Homo sapiens: one gene and its partners. The protein of the gene in region 2 purifies or fractionates together with the protein of the main gene of each other region. This does not show direct contact. Each region holds a gene or a part of one and is shown on either strand. Other genes may lie near its edges.

Region 1 (3,686 bases), on a different chromosome or scaffold from region 2:
AAACTGGGGAAAGAGGTAATCAACTGAAATGTTCCTACTGGGAGAGACACAGGGTGTTGATTTAAGTCTTTTTTAAAAAAAACTAAATGTAGAGATGAGGTCTTGTTATGTTGCCCGGGCTGGTCTTGAACTCCTGGGCTCAAGTGATCCTTCTGCCTCTGCCTCCCAAAGTGCTGGGACTACTGGCATGAGCCACTGTGCCCAGCCTGATTTAAATCTTAAGAAGATTGGGCCAGGCGTGGTAGCTCAGTCCTGTTGTCCCAGCACTCTGAGAGGCCGAGGCAGGCGAATCACCTGAGGTCAGGAGTTCGAGACAAGCCTGGCCAACATGGCGAAACCCCATCTCTACTAAAAATACAAAAATTAGCTAGGTGTGGTGGCAGGCGCCTGTAATCCCGGCTACTCAGGAAGCTGAGGCAGGAGATTCGCTTGAACCGGGGAGGTGGAGGTTGCAGTGAGCCGAGATGGCGCCATCGCACTCCAGCCTGGGAGACAAGCGAAACTCCATCTCAAAAAAAAAAAAAAAAAAAAAAGAAATCTTAAGAAGATTGATCTTAATGAAGCAATTGGGATTTGTCATCTCAGCCATTCCAGAGAAATACGGAAGAGTCGTGGTGGATGGCCAGAATTGCCTGTCCTGACAGACTGTTCTTTTCATAAATTATAACAAGAGGGCATACATATATTTTCAATGCTTTAAAATCTCAAACAAACAGAAGCAGAGAGATCATTAAAGTGAACCCCCATGTACTTAATATTACCAACATATTGCTATTGACTGTATTTTTTCTTGGCTCATGATTTTTCTTACAATTTTTCGTTGGCATTTTTTTCAGAGTTGCAGTTAAAGGGATTTTTGGATTGGGGTGGGGAAAACAGGGTTGATCTTCTTTTTGGATTATAATTCTGTGATTTGTGAAGAGAGTCTGGAAAGAAATACACCAGGATGTTAACTATGTGCAGGCAGTGAAGCTCTAGGTGCTTTTTTCTTTTTTTTTTAACCTTTCCCTACTTTTATTTATTAATTGTTGTATTTCAAGGGATGCTCATGTCTCTACCTTTCAGAATGTATACACAGAGACTCTAGATTGTTTTTTAAAAATCACACTGAAGTGTACTTGGGCTTCAATGTCTAAAATGCTCATCAGAGCTTAGTCTTCCGTCTAATTCTCAAAGCATTAATTGCCAGGTACTGTAAACTGGCTTAAAAAGAAGAGAAAAAGAAACTGAGTATCCGTAAAGATGCTAGCCTGTGTTGGCTTACCTTACAGTTTATACATTTTTTTGTTCTTGTGTTGAAGGTGACTGCTGAGGTTGGAAAGCTCTTGGGTGAAGAGAAGGTGGATGCAATTCTTTGCGTTGCTGGAGGATGGGCCGGGGGCAATGCCAAATCCAAGTGTGAGTCCTTTCCTGAGTCACTCATTTGTTCTGCTCTGCTCTTTTTCCAGCTGACAAGGATTGGGTTTGCACTAGGTGACAGGCCAGCTGTTTTTTTGTGTATATCCCGGAATCTTTACAGTTGCTCGGGGAGAGAGTGATTAATGCTCTTAATCCATTTTACGGATAAAGAAGAAGCTTCCCCTGGAGGACGTGAGGGGACGGGGGGCATTGAGTTTGAGTTTAAAGTAGAGGCAGAATGAAATCAGCATGGCCTGTGCCCCAGGCCATGTGCTATTCAGGCATTGGAGGATGTGTAGGAAGTGCAGAGATCATTTAGAAAGTCAGAAGAAGTCAAACTTGAGATTTTACTAAAGCTGATTCCTTTTTTCATCTTTTCTTTTCCCTTCCCTTCCCTCCCCTCCCCTCTACTCCCCTACCCTTTTTCTTAAGACAGAGTCTTGCTCTGTCACCAGGCTGGAGTGCAATGGTGTAATCTCGGCTCACTGCAACCTCTGCCTCCCAGGTTCAAGCGATTCTCCTGCCTCAGCCTCCCGAGTAGCTGATATTACAGGTGCCCACCACCAAGCCCAGCTAATTTTTTGTATTTTTAGTAGAGACGGGGTTTCACCATGTTGCCCAGGCTGGTCTTGAACTCCTGACCTCAGGTGATCCACCCCCTTCAGCCTCCCAAAGTGCTGGGGTTACGGGCGTGAGCCAGTGCGCCTGGCCCATTTTTCAACTTTTCATTATGAACATTTCTAAGCATACCAGAAAAGTTGAAAGAACAGTTCAATGAACACCCTTATATGCTCCATCTAGATTCAGTAACTGTTAACATTTGCTGTACTTGAGTTGAGCTTGTTTTCTTGTGCCTGTGTACTTTGTGCATTGTTTTTTGTTAACTGTTTGAAAATAAGTTTACACCTCACTATATTTCCGCGTGTTTCTCCAAAGAATAAGCCCGTCCTACATTATTATGGTACCATTGTACCTAAGAAAGTTAACAGTGATTATCTAAGATTAATGATATTGAGCCCATATTCAAATTTCCCCAGTTTATTCCATGTCTATTATAGTTCTTTTTCCCTAAACATATTCCACTCAAGGTTTATGTACTGCATTATGTTGTTTTTAGTCTCTTAATCTAGAAAATCTAGAATTTTTAAAAAAATCCCCTGTGATAAGACTTTTTGTCAAGTCCTTGGGAGTTTTCATATAGCATGTCTCACATTCTGAACTTGTCTGAACTTTTCTTTAAGGGGTTGTTTGACTTGTTCCTCTATCCTTGGTATTCCCCGTGAACTGGAATTTGGGTCTAGAGACTCAGTTAGATTTAGCATAAACATTCTTGTGGTGCGAATTCTTCCTGAGTGATGGTGTGTACCTTATATGACATCACCTGGGAAGCTCAGCATGGCAGCTTGCCCTACCCTTAGGGATGCCAAATTTGATGCTTGGTTGAGATGGCAACTGCCAGACTTCCATTATAAAGGTACTTTTTTTCTGTTTGCAGTAAGTCAGTCATCTGTGGGATGTGTGGTATTGTGGTATTGTGTGTGAATGTCCTGTTTCCCAAGTATTATACTTTTCACCCAGTGGTTTTAGTCCTTCGTTGATAATCTCTGCCTGAAGCACTTATTCAGGGGTTGGAAAATGGTAGTTTTCTAATTCTGTCATCCCTTCTACATTTATTAGCCAAAGCCATTTAAAAAGACGTTGACATTCTGTGACCCACATGTCAATGTGAGAGTGGTGCTTTGTGAGGTGATCAGGTTAGCAAAACAGCTTGATAACCTTTTTGTATGTTTTGGGAGCAAGAAATGATAAATGTGGATCCATCAGGTTTTTTTCCTAGTCTTTTTTAGTGGGGAAATGCAATTTCTTGTTTATCACCTACCAACCCCTCCTATATCAGGAGGACATCCTTTTTTGATCACCAGGTACCACATGCCCTTCGAGTTGCCCAGTTGGTGGTGTGACATATGTTACCATTTGTTCTTCCTTATGTCTCTGGCAAGGCCGGGGAGTTAAAACAAGTGTAAAATGGTTGTTATTTTAGCTTTCTTTTGAAGAGTCTTTAAAGCTAACATTAAACTTTCAGACATAAAATATGTAGCTCAGTAAAAGCTCTCTTTATAGCTGTACAGTAATAGGCCCTTGGATTTTTATCACAGAGAAAACCTGACGTAGACATATAGGTTCTTATTACAAATCTGATACCATTCATAAAATAAAACAATCTTTGAATTAAAGCCAGTCCAGCAAATCAGTAAACTCCAGGTTTATTTTGTAAAATTTATTGGCCA
Region 2 (3,500 bases):
CACTTGGGAATAGCCAATCACCAAATGCTTATAAGAATGTACAGTTTTTCCTTCCTTTCTTTTATTCTCTCTCCCTCCCGCCCTTATCCATCCATCCTCTCATCCATGCATGAATGCATCCATCCATCCATCCATCCATCCATCCATCCATCCATCCAACAGATATTGATTCCTGGGCTGACTTCGAGCTTAACACCAAAGATTCAGCAGTAAGAGGGCAGGCACAATCCCTGCTCAGCCTGTCTGACCCTCCCCAACCCCCAATCCTGCCCCTTCAGCAAGCCTGCCTCTAATATTTGCAAGGCCTGAGACAAGAATACAAATGGCAGCCTCTGGCCCCAGTGCTTTCTCCTTCTCATCACTGTGGTTCTGACAGCCAGCAAGGGTGCTCATGTGTCCACATGTGGACAGCTCAGCCCGGATACCCAAACTCCACCATGCCTGCCTCCCCAAGTAGCCAACTCAACCATCCTTCAGGTCTGGGGGAGCTCACATAGCCATGCAGTGCTCCCCTGGAGGATGGAACAGGAAAGATCCCTGCAGCCCTGAGAGGAGGCTCAGAGCCATTTGGGATTTTGGGGTCCTGGGTACCCAGAGCATCATCTAGAAGGGAGGGGTGCAGGTTTCAGGGGGGTACATCCCTTTGGCCCCACAGAGTCCCCACCCTGGGAGAGGGCTGCCATTGGCAGAGGGCCAGAGGGAGACTGCTTCCCCCAAGCCCAGGCAGGGGTCCCCTTTGCCCAAGTCTGAGGGCTGTACTGCCTTCCATGGCCTCCCACTGCCTCCCAGGACAGTCTGGGGGAGCTAAGGTCCCTCCCGGCTCTCTCTCTCTGCCTGAGTGGTGTTGCCTGCCCCTCTGGTCAAGAGTGAGTCAGTGCTGGGGCCTGACAGGCTGTGTCTGTTCAGGGGTGGGTGGGGTCTCAGCTGCCCCAAGTTTGCCCAGGAGTGGGTGAATCAGTGCTGACCCAGCTCTGCCCTGGCCTGGCAGCCTGTGCATTTGTTAGGAGGATAGCAGATCGGCCCAGTCAGCCTGACGGGAATTGCTGAGACACCAGGCTGGTTTCCTGTCTCCGAGGGTCAGGATGTGACCCTGGGCCCCCTCCCGGAATCCAGGCTCCGGCCTGCCCTTCAGGGACCCAGCGAGATCCAGCCCCTGCCCAGCGGGGCTGTCTGCAGACCTGCCCAGCACACGCACTGAGCGGCACTTCCCCAAGGCTCTCGGCTGCCACCGCCCATCTACCACCCACCCACAGGAAATCTGAGGATTCTGAGGGATGGACGGGAAAGCCACTTCTCTGTGCCAGAGATCGAAGAAGCCGGCCATAGGTCAGGAGGGATCCGGCTGGCTGCTAAAAGCCACCACCCCCACTACCACGTCCAGCCCCATGCCGCTAGGCCTTTGCTGTGCACTGGCTTCTGCCTGGAATGCCCTCTACCCTGCTCTTGGGCTAGACACCAGGGGCCTTTTCCCTAACGCCCCTCCCTCCTCTACCTTCAGTGCTCATCACCCCATCACCTGCGGCCCCCTGAAGCCCCATTTGCTGATCCCACCACTCATACCAGGGCTGCTGATGCCACCTCTGCCTCCCTGGCTCTACCTTCTGTCTGCATCATCAACACAGGCTGGGCACAGAGTGGCACCTGGTGAGGGCTGCGCAATGGGGACTATGAGCTCTAGACCCCACTCTTAGGGGATGCCTGGGGAGGAAGGTGCCTCCCAGGGAAACCACAGGGTCCTCAGTGGTCACAGCAGTAGGGGCTGGCAGCATCATGGGCTCAACCCTCAGAGCAGGGAGACAAGAAGCAGCAGGAGGAGGAAGGCCCAGCTCCATGAGGCTGGACCTCAGCTTGCCCTGCTGAAAATGAATTCACAGCCCTGCCCCATTAATCTTTTTTTTGTTGTTGTTTTGTTTTTGAGACAGGGTCTTGCTCTGTCGCTCAGGCTGGAGTGCAGTGGTGCGAACTCGGCTCACTGCAATCTCCACCTCCCGGGTTCAAACGATTCTCTTGCCTCAGCCTCTCTAATAGCTGGGATTACAGGCACCTGCCACCACGCCTGGCTAATTTTTGTATTTTTAGTAGAGATGCGGTTTCGCCATGTTGGCCAGGCTAGTCTCGAACTCCTGACCTCAAGTGATCTGCCTGCCTCAGCCTCGCAAAGTGCTGGGATTACAGGTGTGAGCCACTGCGCCTGACCTGCCCCATTGATCTTGTAGCAATAACCATTGAGGTTCAAATTATTCAACTGATACGAAGACATTCTGTAAACGGTAACAACCCTGGCAAAATGGGGATGTTCACAGAGGAGAAATGGAACCCAGAGAGAAATAATAATAACAATAACCGTAGCCACCATACGCTGAGCCGTCACTCCAGGCAGGTCCTGCGCTTGGTGTTTTGCTTGCACCGTCCTGCTGGATTCTTACAACACACCTGTGAGGTAGGTGCTGCTAATGGGTCCAGGTTTCCCGTGGGAAAATCAAAGCTCGGAGGTGGCCCAAGGCGATGTGGCTCTCAGAGGCGGAGCCACAGTTCAGCTGGAGGGCTGCCTGGCTCCAGAACCTGTGTTCTCAACCCCTGCATCAAGGTCATACAGCGGCGCACACATTTGTGCACGCATGCGTGCATTCACTCACACGTTCAAGAGTTACTTGGGGCCAGACGCAGTGGCTCATGCCTGTAATCCCAGCACTTTGGGAGGCCGAGGTGGGCGGATTATTTGAGGTCAGGAGTTCAAAACTAGCCTCTCCAACATGGTGAAACCCTGTCTCTACTAAAAATACAAAAATTAGCTGGGCATGGTGGCAGACGCCTGTAATCCCAGCTACAGGAGTCTGAGGCAAAAAACAAACAAACAAAAACAACAAAAAACAAACAAACAGAGTGATTTGGTGTAAGCCAGGCCCCTGGGCCAGGTTCTGCTACTCTGTGTTCTCAGGTGAGCTCCTGAGTCCGAGAAAGGTGTGTCTACCAGCAAGTGGGGAGAAGGACCACCCTCTGCACACCAGATGCTATGCGAGGTGCTGGCCAGGGACAGATCCAGGACTGAACCCTGGGTTTCCTGGACCCCAGATGTCTCTACCACCTCCTCAAATGAACATCCCTCAAAGCCCTGGAGCCTGCAGCCTGGCTCCTTGAATTAAAAGTTGGAAGCTCCCTGGAGCGAGTTCTCTAGAAGAGGCAGAGGCTAACAGGGAGATTTTGTTGTCATGAACTCAAGGATCCTTGGAATATGGCATGAGTTACAGTGGCCCCCTGCCATGCCCCTAAAATCCCTCCAAGAACTGTTATTGCCCACGGGATAAAGATCAAACTTCTTAATATGGCGACAGGCCTTTGCCATCTCCCCTGTCCTGCTGGGGAACCTCTAGCTCCTGCCACCTGATGACCCCAGAGCCTGTTCCCTCTGCCTCCGCATTCACTCTATTCTGTGCTCTTCCACACCACCTCCTTCCTTGGTGAGCTCCTGGACATCCATGATGTTTCTTCCTCCAGGCCCA
Region 3 (3,686 bases), on a different chromosome or scaffold from region 2:
GTATTTTTTGTAGAGGTGGGGTTTCCCTATGTTAAGCAGGCTGGTCTCAAACTCCTGGGCTCCAGTGATCCACCCACCTCAGCCTCCCAAAGTGCTGGGACTACAAGTGTGAGCCACCACACTTGTTCCTTCACTGACTCTCAGATGTATGAGATCCACTTAGGCCTGACACCAGCTGCCTCAGCAATTCGCCATGGAGAGGTTCCCTTGTCTTATTTCATAGCCCCTGTCATAATTTCATCATCTTCCCGTGCCACATCATGTGATTTATAAGGTAATTCATGTAGCTCCTGATAGAAAAGGAGTCAAACTTCGGAAAAAATATCCACTCGCCGGGTGCAGTGGCTCACACCTGTAATCCCAGCACTTTAGGAGGCCAAGGTGGGTGGATCACCTGAGGTCAAGGGTTCAAGACCAGCCTGGCCAACATGGCAAAACCCCGTTGCAGTGAGCCGAGATCACGCCACTGCACTCCAGCCTGGACGACGGGGGGGGGGGAAAATATATACATACACACACACACACACACGTATATATATATTTATACATATATGTGTATATATTTATGTGTATATATACGTATATATATGTTTATATATATATGTACATATATACATAAATAAATATATAGACCCATCTCTAGACTTCCAGGTAATGATATTAATTTGAAATAAGATGACATGTAAGGCCAGGTGCCGTGGCTCATGCCTGTAATCCCAGCACTTTAAGAAGCCAAGATGGGAGGATCACTTGAGCCCAGGAGTTTGAGACCAGCCTGGGCAATACAGGGAGACCCTGTCTCTCTTAAAAAAAAAAAAAAAAAAAAAATAGCTAGGCGTGGACATCTGTAGTCTTAGCTACTGAGGAATGTGAGGCAAGAAGATCACTTGAGCCCAGGAGGTCAAGGCTGCAATGAGCTGAGGCCGCAACACCATACTCCAGTCTGAGCGATGAAGTGAGACCCTGCCTCAAAAAAAGATGACACGCAGGAGGAACAAGATGAAGAAGTAGGTTGGGTGTGGTGGTTCACCTGTAATCCCAGCACTTTGGGAGGCCGAGGCGGGCAGATCACTTGAGGTCAGAAGTTCGAGAACAGCCTGGCCAACATGGTGAAACCCCATCTCTACTAAAAATATAAAAAAGTTAGCCAGGCATGGTGGTGCACACCTGTAATCCCAGCTACTCGGGAGGCTGAGGCAGGAGAATCTCTTGAACCCAGGAGGCGAAGGCTGCAGTGAGCTGAGATAGAGCCACTGCACTCCAGCCAGTCTGGGCGACAGTGAGACTCCGTCTTAAAAAAAAAAAAAAAAAAAAAAAAAAGGACGGAGAGGTGCTGTACACCTTAAGAAAGAGTCCCCCTTAGAAGCAGTTCTCCCATTTGGTCGGCTGGATCCCAGACACTTGATTTTCCACGCCCTCTTCCCTGGGACTTCTGCGATCACAAGCAGAAGAGGGCAGATGGCATTTTAATAATATAGTAATTCCATCAGAAAAAACATGTGACTTAGTACTACTAATCTGACAGGCAGAAATGTAGGGAATTGTACTCAATGAATTTAACCAACTTCTCTCCATTTAGTACCAATTACACTTCATTCAACCAGAGAGGACTACAAAAAAAAACGAGTAAATTTAAGAGCTTACTGTAAACCACTTCATTTCGAAGAAACCTTCCTAAAACACTTAGAAGTTATTTTCCAAAAGATTTATATTTTATAAATTCAACAAAGGTTCTTCTTTTCCTTTAGAAAGCTCTTAGGTTTAAGATAACAGTTTGCATATGATTACTACTTTTTTTTAAATCTCCAAGAGTTTACATGAGAATGCTAGTAGTTCAGTCCTGAATGAAAACAGAGAAAGAGAGAAAGGAACTCCAAATTTAGCTACATCAGAAAGCTAGAAAACACTGTTTCAGTGCACACACTGGGCAGATTGCGCACATTAAAACCCACTCCCCTAGATCGCGCCCACCGCACTCCAGCCTGGGAAACAGAGCAAGACTCCATCTCAAGAAAAAAAAAAAAACCACTCCCCAGCAGCCTCTGCATTCATTACATGTTATGCTAACATACTGGATTTATGTTAAACTCTACAAACTGAAAGCTTTGATAGTAGGGGAATGTGTAGGTTATTATTAATTCAAGTTCTGTTTTTTTTTTATTACCAACCACATGCCAGACACAAGTGATGCACTAGAAATGCAAGCACAAGACACCAGCTCTGTCCTCAAGGAATGGGCAGTGTGGCTATTTAAGTGCTGGCACCTGCCAGTCGTCTGAATGGGGAGCATGCTTTTAGGGACAGTGCTAGGGACTGGTGGAGAACACAGCCACACTGTGGTCTGCCTGCCACCTCCTGGACCTCTCCACACCCGCAGAGGCCTTTGGCCTCTTTTCTTTCCCACCCACATTCACACCCTGGGTGACCTCATCTGATGTGACCTCCAGTCTATCTCCAGCCCAGGCTTATTCTTTTAGCTCCAAACCTGTAGACCCAAAAGCCCACTGGACACTGCTCTACAAGGATGTCTAACATCCACCTCACATTCAACACACATAAATCCAAACTCGCAACAGAAAGCTTCCCACCAGACAGGACCTCCCCAAGTCTTCCCCATCTGAGTTTCTTTTTTTTTTTTTTTTTGAGACAGAGTCTCGCTCTGTCGCCCAGGCTGGAGTGCAGTGGCGCAGTCTTGGCTCACTGCAAGCTCCGCCTCCCGGGTTCACGCCATTCTCCTGCCTCAGCCTCCTGCGTAGCTGGGATCACAGGCGCCCGCCACTATGCCCGGCTAATTTTTTGTATTTTTAGTAGCGACGGGGTTTCACCGTGTTAGCCAGGATGGTCTCGATCTCCTGACCTTGTGATCCGCCCACCTCGGCCTCTCAAAGTGCTGGGATTACAGGCGTGAGCCACCACGCCCGCCCCCCTCCATCTGAGTTGCTTAGCTCAGGCCATACACTATGGGGCCATCTTTAACTCCTCCCTCTCTACCCATCCCTCTCCCAACTTCCAATCTACAAACAAATTCTATTGTCTCAACCTCCAAAACACATGCAGAAGTCAACCTCTTACCCACCCTGAGCTAATCCACTGGCATCTCCTTGCTGGCTTGTTCAACAGTCTCTTAGCTGGTCTCGCTGCCTCTGCCCTTGCCCCTCTGCAGTACATTCTCAAAAGAGATGCCAGAGCAAGCCTGTTGAACACAGTCTATCATGTGACTCCTCCTCTAGAATGAAACCTTCCAAACGGCTGCCATCCTGTTCAGAATAAACACTGAGTCCTCACTATGAGCTGCCATCCTGTTCAGAATAAACACCGAGTCCTCACTATGAGCTGGCAAGGCCCCACTACACTGAGCCTAAGTCACCTTTCTATCCTCAGCTCCTGCTTCTCCCACCGCCACCCGCTGCACCTGAGCCACACCAGGCTCTTGCTACCTGCCCTTCCTCCTACACTGCTTTAAGTCTTCGTCAAAACTTAAACCTTCAGAGTGAGACCCTTCCTGGCCATCCTGGCTACAATTCCAATCCTCCTCATCCTTGGCCCAAATCACCATCCCCCAGGAGCCACGCACTTCGCTGCTAATGCTGGTCTCATGTCTAGAACGTTAGCTACCCCAGGGCAATGGTTTTCATCTATGTTGTTACTTCTCTAGTCCTAGTGTCTAGAACAATGCCTAACACATA
Region 4 (3,686 bases), on a different chromosome or scaffold from region 2:
GTGTCTTTCCCCACAGTTTGTTGAAGTATGAGAATGACTTTAATACTTGCTTTAGTACTTAGATTTATCCTATCTAGAGTTATGCAGCTATTGTGGTATTTGAGTTGCATAGAAGTAAGTTGAGAATTCCTTTGGATTTTGTGGGAGCTGGAGCAGTATGGTCAATGTATTTGATGAAAGAGGAAATGGAAATATGGTAATTATGTTTTCTTCAGTTCAGCTAGGCAGTACTGTGTATGTGTGAATGTATGTGTGGTTGGAGGGGGAGTTAGCATTACAGAGAATCTTTTGGGATTCTTTTGAACTTTGATTAACAAGTGATGGATGATAAATACTTTGTTTTCTAAAAGGCAGAATCTCTTATAAATGGTGTCTGTGGTCAAATTCAAATATAATACATTGAAACATGGAGACTAGAAACAAAATGAAACAAAATTCTCCCTCCATTCATTTTCTATTTTTTTTTCCTGTTTATGATCTAAGCCAACAGTTCTCAAGCTGGGGTGAGTCCCCCTCCCTACTTCCCCAGATCCCCATCCATGGGACATTTGGAGACATTTTTGGTTGTCACAACAGGGGACGGGGTGTGCTACTGGCATCTAGTTGGGTAGAGGGCAGGGATGCTTCTAATCGTCCTAAAATACATGGTACAGCCTTCCACAACAAAGAGTTAGCTGGCTCAATATGTCAGTAGTGTAGAGGTCAAAAAACCCTGTTCTAAGAAAACCAAATACCACATGTTCCTATAAGTAGGAGCAAAATGATGAGAAAACATGAAAACAAAGAACAGAACAGCAGACACTGGGGTCTACTCAAGGATGGAGGGTGGGAGGAGGTAGATGAGCAGAAAAGATAACTATTGGGTACTGGACTTAATACCTGGGTAATGAAGTAATCTGCACAGCAAACCCCATTATACGAGTTTACCCATGTAACAGACCTTCACATGTACCCCCAAACCTAAAATACAAATTAAAAAAAAAGGAAAAACTCAGTTCTAAACTCTTAAATTTTAAAAGCAGTAGTTTATTAGTAAAAGGGCTCTGCTCTCTTCCCCCTAAAGTTAGTAATCTAAATTTTACAAGTACATGGTATTGATGATCTCCAGGTAACGTTGTATTGAAAGATTTTTATCTTTTCATTATCTTTTAAATTAGAATATGATTAAATTAGAGAAACAGACTATAGATACGCACATTCTTTCATCCTTGATGAAATGCTTGAGAATTCACCAGTATAGTATAATATTTTATACTATAATAAAATATTCCAATGACTTATGGATAAACTCTCCTATCACCGATTTTGATAGAGTGCTCATGAAGACTGCATGTTCCTGGACATAATGAATGATTGGTTAAGGTATCAAGTTTAATTATATTTGCTTTAGATCCAGGATTTTCTTTGCCATGATATGATCTTTAAGGATATTTGCCTTTATTTTTACTGACATCATTGGGCTGCCTTATGGCGGTATTCGTGTGTGTGTGTAACATGTTGCCTGAAATATGTTCACTATTACATGTTCCCTGAATAGTTTCAAGGTAGAAATTCTGTTTTTTTAAAAAAGATATTTCTTTTGTCTAGCTAACTTTAATTTCAAGAAACTTTTAACCTAATCTCTTAATTACATAATTATCTTGAGAATCACTAGCTGGGTTTTGGTTACCGTTAGACTAATTCATGATACAGTAAGTAATATTTTATGATCTATTGCAGATCGTTTCCCTTTTTAAGGCTAAATCTTGACCATAATTAATAAAATGCTTACCTTGTTTTGAACTCTGGTTTTAAGGGAGTTAACCTAGCCAACCAAGATAAGAATTACAGTGAAACTCTTAGCAAATTAAGGAGCATTATACCATAGAGAGGAAAATTCTGAAGTCATTCCCACAAATGGTGTCCAAATGAGCCTCACAGTGTCTTTGTAACACACCTCTCCATACCCTTCTCTCTGATACTGACATTTTCGCCTTTTGGGTCCACCAGACTCACTGTTCTTAAGAGAAGCACAACTAAACCAAATGAGATTTTAGTAATCTCTAAATTGTTTCTTTAGATTCCAAGACTTTATTTTGTTGCATTTTGACTTTTTAAAGTGCTACTATGATTTTCTCATCTTTGATATTTCATGAGTCCAATGATTTAAATTTGTGTTTTCATGGTCTGTTAAGTTGCCAGTTGCCATGTTGTCTCAGATTATAGGTAAGGTTGGCAACATTTGATACTAGGGGTCACTGGTATGCCTTAGCTTTTTGCTCACTGCTCTGTAACTCATTGTTTTTTCCATTCCCTTTCATTATTGTTCCCTTTCCATTTTCCTCCCTTCTTTGTCTACTCCCTTTTCTTCCCCTGACCCTTCTGTACTTCCTTATACTGCTTGCTTGTGGAACCCAGTTGTGGCTTAGCATCATGGGTGACTCCAGAGGGCTTACCCGTAGTTTTAATGAAAACAGATTGAATTTAGAATGCTTGAGAATTGACCAGATAGTCTTTTCCACTGTTTTTTCATTTACTGGTTTCTGGACTACCTCGCACACCCTCTTGGGAATAGTGTTACTCTCTTAGAATCAAATGGCTTGAACTTTAGATTGCTCTTATTCTCTTTTTTAATATTCAGGTTTTCCTTAACTCTTTGCTGCTTCAGAAAAAGTTTCGCTCATCTTATTATTCATTTATCATCTCTGTTTAAGCCAAAATTTGACTAGAACCAAGAGTATATTTATTGCTGCTGATAGGACCACATTAGACTTCCTCTGTGGTAGATTTAATTCTGTTAGATTGTAAAATAGTCATGTCTAGACAGAACATTGATTTCAAATTGACTATTGAACATGAAAATTCCAGGAATAGTGTATAGAGGAAGGAGGAGGAGGAGGAGAAATCAAGAAGGTAAGAAAACTACTGTAGATAGCAAGTGACTTTCTGTCATTCTCCACCTAGATTTCTTGTTAGTCACTTTTGTATACCCAGTGCATCTAGAGGTCAGGCTTTGTTTTAATAAAGGGACTTAAAGGAAATATGTTTTTGTCTCTGAGATTGGATTTTTTGAACTGTTAGAGTGGTGGACCTAAGGGAAAGAATTGGAAACTTCATATGGATAGTGATCAAGAATGTGGTCGTAGAGGTTGGTAGACTTGAGCTGTGGTGTCAGTGCTGCCAGTATCTAGCTTATGTATCATTTTCTGTTACTTGATTATTGTAGCACTTTTCTAGCTAAGATTCACCAGTTCCCTATCACTACTTCCTTTTCTTTCTAGTCCATCTGCATAGCTGCTGGAGTGATCTTATTAAAAAATAAATCTGAATATGTTACCCTTGCTTAAAACCTTTCACTGACTGTGAGTCACCTTTAGCATAGAATCTAAAGTCTTAGAATGTCATAAAAGGTCCTTCATCGTTTGGTTCCTGCCTATTTTTTCTAACCTCTTGGTATTGGTTAAGAGTATAGACTCTGGATATAGACCTAATTGGTTTAAATCTTGGTTTCATAACTTAACCTTGGTCAAGTTACTTCACCTTTGTGTGCCTCAGTTTTCTCATCTACACAATGGGGGGATATTAATAGTGCCTACCTCAGAGAGTGGTTTGAATATTAAATGCTAGTTATTCTGCTGCAGCTTCTCCTCAGCCTGAGTACTATATTCCATCCATACAGACTTGACTTGCAGTTTCTTAAATGTGTA

Evidence for each region. Proteins that work in one complex are often made in the same cells at the same time.
Region 1: the proteins of ENG (region 2) and QDPR purify together in Homo sapiens (affinity purification with mass spectrometry; one large-scale study listed by BioGRID and IntAct). This does not show direct contact.
Region 3: the proteins of ENG (region 2) and ATG4B purify together in Homo sapiens (affinity purification with mass spectrometry; one large-scale study listed by BioGRID and IntAct). This does not show direct contact.
Region 4: the proteins of ENG (region 2) and ACVR2A purify together in Homo sapiens (affinity purification with western blotting, with the first as the bait; 2 studies listed by BioGRID). This does not show direct contact.

The regions. Positions count from the first base shown.
Region 1 is NC_000004.12:17,502,091-17,505,776, reverse strand, and holds part of QDPR (dihydropteridine reductase), read left to right. Parts: intron 1-1,301; coding exon 1,302-1,398; intron 1,399-3,686. UniProt on the Homo sapiens protein: Catalyzes the conversion of quinonoid dihydrobiopterin into tetrahydrobiopterin.
Region 2 is NC_000009.12:127,837,659-127,841,158, forward strand, and holds part of ENG (endoglin isoform 1 precursor), read right to left. Parts: intron 1-3,500. UniProt on the Homo sapiens protein: Vascular endothelium glycoprotein that plays an important role in the regulation of angiogenesis. Required for normal structure and integrity of adult vasculature. Regulates the migration of vascular endothelial cells.
Region 3 is NC_000002.12:241,640,507-241,644,192, reverse strand, and holds part of ATG4B (cysteine protease ATG4B), read right to left. Parts: intron 1-3,686. UniProt on the Homo sapiens protein: Cysteine protease that plays a key role in autophagy by mediating both proteolytic activation and delipidation of ATG8 family proteins. Required for canonical autophagy (macroautophagy), non-canonical autophagy as well as for mitophagy.
Region 4 is NC_000002.12:147,847,843-147,851,528, forward strand, and holds part of ACVR2A (activin receptor type-2A isoform 1 precursor), read left to right. Parts: intron 1-3,686. UniProt on the Homo sapiens protein: On ligand binding, forms a receptor complex consisting of two type II and two type I transmembrane serine/threonine kinases.